Regions from separate parts of the Homo sapiens genome. Here region 1 is reported to be linked to region 2. Evidence: microRNA targets listed by miRTarBase, many of them from high-throughput screens and not tested one by one. Region 2 holds a microRNA gene; the other region holds the end of a gene's coding sequence.
The links. Region 2 holds the annotated microRNA hsa-miR-1-3p (UGGAAUGUAAAGAAGUAUGUAU, at 808-829, shown strand). A microRNA usually pairs through its seed, bases 2 to 8, with sites in the 3' UTR of a target mRNA and lowers its output. Matches are read on the target gene's strand: a 7mer-m8 pairs with bases 2 to 8, a 7mer-A1 pairs with bases 2 to 7 and ends in A, and an 8mer does both.

Region 1: miRTarBase lists PLEKHG2 as a target of hsa-miR-1-3p. Seed matches in the 3' UTR shown: 7mer-A1 at 1,489-1,495.

The regions. Positions count from the first base shown.
Region 1 is chr19:39,424,469-39,427,747 of GRCh38, forward strand. PLEKHG2 (pleckstrin homology and RhoGEF domain containing G2) reads left to right here. Exons shown (of 19, transcript NM_022835.3): 19 at 1-3,279. The coding sequence ends at 826. Among named protein-coding and RNA genes, the nearest start is that of RPS16, 9.8 kb to the right of the region's middle.
Region 2 is chr20:62,553,544-62,556,822 of GRCh38, forward strand. It overlaps MIR1-1 (microRNA 1-1), which reads left to right and starts at 763; the gene lies at 763-833. It overlaps MIR1-1HG (MIR1-1 host gene), which reads left to right. Exons shown (of 4, transcript NR_171007.1): 2 at 1-122. RefSeq lists an enhancer at 3,177-3,279.

The sequences.
Region 1 (3,279 bases), not on the chromosome of region 2:
GCCTGCACATGGAAGCCACCTGGACCATCGGATCCCAGCCAACGCCCCACTGTCTTTGTCCCAGGAGCTCCCAGACACTCAGGTTCCAGCTACCACACCTTTGCCCCTGCCACAAGTCCTCACAGACATCTGGGTCCAAGCCCTCCCAACTTCACCCAAGCAGGGAAGCCTCCCAGACATCCAGGGTCCAGCGGCTGCACCTCCACTTCCGGAGCCAAGCCTTACAGATACACAGGTCCAAAAACTCACACCTTCGTTGGAGCAGAAGAGCCTCATAGATGCCCATGTTCCAGCTGCCACACCTTTACCTGAGAGAGGAGGCTCTCTAGACATTCAGGGCCTCTCACCCACCCCAGTTCAGACCACCATGGTTTTGTCCAAACCAGGAGGCTCCTTAGCCTCTCACGTTGCCAGGTTGGAGTCTTCAGACTTGACGCCACCTCATAGTCCCCCACCTTCCAGCCGTCAGCTCCTGGGCCCCAATGCAGCTGCCCTCTCCAGATACCTGGCAGCCTCATATATCAGCCAGAGCCTGGCTCGGCGGCAGGGGCCTGGGGGAGGGGCCCCCGCAGCCTCCCGGGGCTCCTGGTCCTCTGCTCCCACGTCACGGGCATCTTCGCCGCCCCCCCAGCCCCAGCCACCACCTCCCCCAGCCAGGCGGCTCAGCTATGCCACGACGGTTAACATCCACGTGGGCGGGGGTGGGCGGCTGCGGCCAGCCAAGGCCCAGGTCCGGTTGAACCACCCTGCTCTCTTGGCCTCCACACAGGAATCTATGGGCCTTCACAGGGCCCAGGGGGCTCCTGATGCCCCCTTCCACATGTGAGCCAGGACATGAGGCTTCCCTGAAGCAAGGATTTCAGCCAGATGCCATAGACCCTCAGAACTTGACCTGGAAGTCCAGACACTGAACGCAGGCCTCAAAACTGCTGCGGCCTTCCAACTCCTGGTATCTGCATCGGCGAATGGCCCTTCTTGCCTTGATCCACAGGGATGGGGAAGGGAGGAATGTCATTAATGTTTTGTTAATACTGATTCTTTCATGCAATGATGTGTATTTTCCCATTCTGGAGGCTGTGGGAGATGACAAGACAATGAATGGGAAGGTCTGACACAGAACAAATCAGCGGTTCTGAAAGCTTGGGGAATCTCAGACTCCTTTGAGAATTATTGGAAAATGGACCCACTATAACTTGGCGTGTGTGTGAACTGCTTGATGCCCATCCAGGAAAGCCAAGTTAAGAAGCTTTGCTTCAAGTAGACACTAGAAATCCATTCCCTTGGCAATTTATACAGTTCACGTCTCCCACCATCCGTTCATCTCACCCACCCTGCCATCTCTCCACCTATCCATCTGGCTATTGCTCCATCTAGCTTTCCCGCTCCATCTACCCATCTTCCAATCCATCATCTCACGTATCTGCCTTGCTTATCCAACTGTCTGCCTTATTCACCCACCCATCCCTTTATCATTCTAACCCCATCTGGCATTCCATCCCTCCATTTATCCATCTTCCCACTTACCCATCTTCTCCATCCAGCACTCCGTTCATCAGTCCGTCTCTCCCTCCATATTTCCATCTGTCCATTCATCCACTCATTTTGCCATCCATACATATTCACCCAGCCATCTCCCAATCCATCGACATACCCCATCCCTCCCTCACTGGACTCTCCGGGGTCTTAGTACTATGATACTTCAGAGACAATTCCATGCTGATACGGGGGAGATCAATTTTGGGGCTCTGGGATAAGTCTGTCCCACATCTGTCTGATTTCCCTTGGCATCCTTCCCGTCAGTTCCTCTTGAATATCCCAGTTCTTGTACCCACTCACATACCTCAGATCCCTTCACTCCTCCCCGCAGTTTGCAGCCTCTACAATTCATCCACATGCTCCCTCCCCCAGCAAAATAATTCAGGTCGTGGAGACAAAAGGCTTTTATGTTAGGTTCTGTCTGCCCCCTTGTTCCAGCAGTGGTATGCCCAGTGAGAGGCACAATTTAAACGGTTTCTTTGGTGATGATATTAGCTACTTTCATCAAATACTTAGCCTCTTGTGCTTTAGCACATTATTTATGTAAGCTCCCCTAGGATTCTCTGAAGCACCCTGGTGTCCTGGCTGTGAATTCAAGTCCCATCTTTACTTATTTGGTGTGGGTCCTCCCTCTGAGCCGGTTTTCTCATCTACAAAATGAAGACAACAGTACTTCCCTCCTGGGATCATTGAAAGATTTAGGGAGCATATCCTTCCACTTCCCAAACATATTTGAACCTCTGACTTGCTTAGGAGCATCATTCAAATCACAGATCCCCCAGTATCTAGTCCCAACCTATTGAATCAGGATCCCCAGGGAAGGAGGAGCTTGGGAATCTGATTTTTTTTTTTTTTTTTAGATAAAGTCTCACTCTGTCACCCAGGCTTGAGTGCAGTGGCAAAATCTTGGCTCATTGCAACCTCCACCTCCTGGGTTCAAGCAATTCTCATGCCTCAGCTTCCCGACATAGCTGGGATTATAGGCGTGCACCACCATGCCCAGCTAATTTTTCGTTGTTGTTGTTGTTGTTTTGTTTTTGAGACAGAGTCTCGCTCTGTTGCCCAGGCTGGAGTACAGTGGCACGATCTTGGCTCACTGCAAGCTCCGCTTCCCGGGTTCACGCCATTCTCCTGCCTCAGCCTCCCGAGTAGCTGGGACCACAGGTGCCCGCCACCACGCCCGGCTAATTTTTTTGGTATTTTTAGTAGAGACGGGGTTTTACCATGTTAGCCAGGATGGTCTCGATCTCCTGACCTCGTGATCCTCCCGCCTCGGCCTCCCAAAGTGCTGGCATTACAGGCGTGAGCCATCATTCCTGGCTGGGAATCCGAATTTTTTTTTTTTTTTAGACGGAGTTTCGCTCTTGTTGCCCAGGCTGGAGTTCAATAGCATGATCTCGGCTCACTGCAACCTCTGCCTCCCAGGTTCAAGTGATTCTCCTGCCTCTAGCTGGGATTGCAGGCGCCCACGACCACGCCCAGCTAATTTTTGTATTTTGTAGTAGAGACGGGATTTCGCCATATTGGCCAGGCCATAGTGGTCTTGGACTCCTGACCTCAGGTGATCCGCCCACCTCGGCCTCCCAAAGTGTTGGGTTTACAGGCGTGAGCTACCATACCCTGCCCAGGAATCTGAATTTTTAGCAATCAGTTAGCAGCAAATAAGCTGAGATTTCCTGGGTACTAAGCACATACTATGAGCATTACAGCCGCTTTATATAAGCTCGTTCACTGTCCTCATTA
Region 2 (3,279 bases):
TCCAAGCATCGTCTTTCTCGCCTGCATCTTCGGAGAGAGGTGCTGAGCCCTTCCTCATGGATACGGGGTCCCGGGAGGCAGCCTTCACCAGGGACCTGCCCAGGAAACCAGCAGATGCCCAGGTAAGCCCCCAGGACACCTCTCGGGTCTCTGGTCTGCAGTTCCTCGTCTGGCCTCAGGAGCAAGGAGTTGTCCAGCTCCCGGAGAAGGAGGAGGCTGGTCCTGCGAGTGGGGTGCTGGGCAGGGCGCCCCCCAAGGTTCCTCTCTCCACCCAGCCCTCTCTGGGCTTGGCTGGGATGAGGTGACCCAGGGGGACAGGAAAGTGTTGGCTTTGAAAGTTTGGGACATGGATGATGCCTCCCTGCTCTGGGGTGAGGGTGGAGGGGCAGCCTGTCTCTTCCATGGACGCAAAACCGAGCTACTGCTGGGGCCAGGGACAGGCGCTCGAGACTTTCTGGGGCTCACTGTCCACTTCTGCCTTTCTGGATCGTGTGAGTGTGTGAGACAGACAGAGAGAGATGGATTCAGGGATGGAGGGGCGCCGAGGTCAGAAGGGGGCAGGGAGTCCTGGGCCCCTGGGGGTGGCTGGACACCAGGCAGCAGTGGCAGGAAGGCTGTCCTGCTCACACAGAGAGGGCTCCGGCAGTAGACTCCAGGGAAGAAGTTACACTGCCTCTGAGCTGCCTTCTCTACATCGCAGTGGGGTCAGCTTCTACCGGGGCGGCGTCCCGGGGTCTTGGAACTGCATGCAGACTGCCTGCTTGGGAAACATACTTCTTTATATGCCCATATGGACCTGCTAAGCTATGGAATGTAAAGAAGTATGTATCTCAGGCCGGGACCTCTCTCGCCGCACTGAGGGGCACTCCACACCACGGGGGCCGCCGCGGCCGACAGCCAGCCAGGCGGCTGTGGTGGGGGTGAGGCTGGGGCGGCAGGCTGCCTGGGCGTTGGTGGACGGTCGTGTCCCCGCCAGCATTGTTCTGTCACTTTGCCTGTGTCAGCAGGTGGAAGTGCTCACCAGACATTAAATATTCAGCTTGCTGACTGCGGCAGAGGGGAGGCGGCCTCCGGCAGGCGCGGGGTCCAGCGCGGGGCTGGTGAGGGCTGGGGGGTCGGGGCCGTGGCTGGAAAGCACGGAGTGGTGGCGGCGGCTCTGGGGGCTCCACTGATGGCCATCCTGGAAGAGGCCATCAGCCGGCAGAAAGGGCCACGTGTGGCCAGGGCAGAAACTGCTCAGAGGCACAAGACAAGAGCGAGTTTGGAAAAGGGCAGGTGGCTGGATGCAGAAAGGAGGGAGAGGCTGGGCAGCACATGGTAGAGTCTGCGGAGGGAAGGCACCTCCTGCACCTGCATCCAGCCCTCCCGGCTGTAGGGCAAGGCAGAGGAACTCGGAGGCATGTAGCCTCCAAGGAAGGCGCAGCCCACACGAGATGCTGGGGACGCGGGCAGGGTCAGGGCCACCACTGCCCTTAGGCCCCACTCCTCTGCCGAGGGCACCTGGGACAGGGTCAGAGGAGCTGAGTCTGTGCAGCCCTGAACCCACAGCCCACCCCAGGGGCCTGGGAGCCGTTCGATTTTGCCAAATGTCTGGTTCATGCCGCCCCAACCTGTACCCCCACCAAAGCCCCGGTTCAGCTTTCTCTCTGTTCCGCCGAATCCAACCTGAGGCATGTTTTGCTGTGAATGCAGGTGAGGCTTTGGCAGAAAGCAGCGTGTGGCCCAGGGCCCCTTGCCCCACCTGTCGGGGGCCTGAGAGCCATCTGCTCTGCCGCCATCCCAGTCCTGACCCGAGAAAGGACTGGGAGGATGTCCTGGGGCCCAGGGGATGAGGGCAGGTCCGGATCCGTCCGTGAAACCCTTTTCCCCAGTGCTGGTCCTTCAAGGAGAGGATGGGCGGCGGGTTCTGGGGTCTTAGGCAGCGGCTGGGCTGCTGTGTGAGGGGCGTTTGCCCGGCTCGTTTCTGAGTCTCAGATTGGAGGCGTTTGCCACCTGGGATGAGGCCAGGTCCCTGCCTGGGCACCCCCACCCTGCCACAGGCCTCAGGATTAATTTCTGGGGTGTGTGTCCTCTCTGCCTTGGCACTGCTCCAGCCACAGCGGTGCCCCTGTGCCCTACCTCCCGCACCCTGGCCTTCGGCAGGAATGAGGCGGGAAGGGACAGGCAGGCAGCCCCCTCCTGCAGCGGCTGGAGGCCTTGGGTCTGGGGGCAGCCAGGTCACCTGAGCAGCTGGGGCCAGCATAGGGAGCGCTGGATAAAGGGATTGGGGGCCGTTCTGAGCTTTCAGGTGGCTCCCACCCCTCAGGGAGCCTCGAGGTGACTGGAGGGGAGGGCCTGGCAGTCAGGGCTCCTGGCCTTCAGGTCTTCCTTCTGGAAACTTCGTTCTCCCAGCCTCAGCCCCATCTGGCGTAGCAGCAAGGGGGCGGGTGTTGACCTCGGGCACAGCCTCCTCTCGGCCTCTGGACCCGGAGGGTCAGTGCCCAGCATCCGCTGACGTCATCTCTTCCCTGCCTGCTCCCAGCTCCGGCCACAGGGAGGGAAGTAGCCGGGCGTGTGGCCACCGAGGCTGCCGGTGGCCACAGACACACCGTTCTTTTCCCCTAGATGCGGCTGTTGTACATTAAAGCTTTATTGCAGGATGTGGTGTTTAAATAAAAGCATTAGTGTTTTGGAATTAGGTTTGACTGAGCAGTAAAACTGGAGAGTTCACAGGGAGAGAGCTGCGGCCTGCTTGGCGGTAAATCACCTCCAGTCTCTGATCTGCTGAATTAAAAATGAGCATTGCACGGACACCGCCCATGGCAGCCCGAGCCCCTCTCCCCTGCACGTGTGGCCTGATGGTGCTCCCTGGGGATCCTGCTGCTTTCCTGGAGACACTGGGACCCGGGGCTGGAGTCTCCCATGCGTGAATCTCTAAAGCTTGGCTCCCGGGCAGCAGCCAGGACGGGAACCCCAAACTGGCGTGGGGCATGGACACGCTGGGACTTTCCCCTGTGGGGGTCTTTGTGCCTGTCCGTTTGAAGGAGGGGAGAGCAGGCAGGGCGGGGGCACAGACCCTCACTGGCTATGTCTTGCCCGCAGGGACTCTCCTGAGACGGCTTAGGCACGCTACCATGGGGGCCGGGACTCTCAGAGGGAAATGAGCCTGGACTGGGCTGAGGGGGCTGGACATGGGACACCCACCCCCTCGCCTGCCAGCTCGGGAACCCAGGTGGGTTTGTGTGGCCATGAGGAGGTGGCCAGTGCCGGTGTCTCTCACTCCCTAGAGCAGGTAGCACC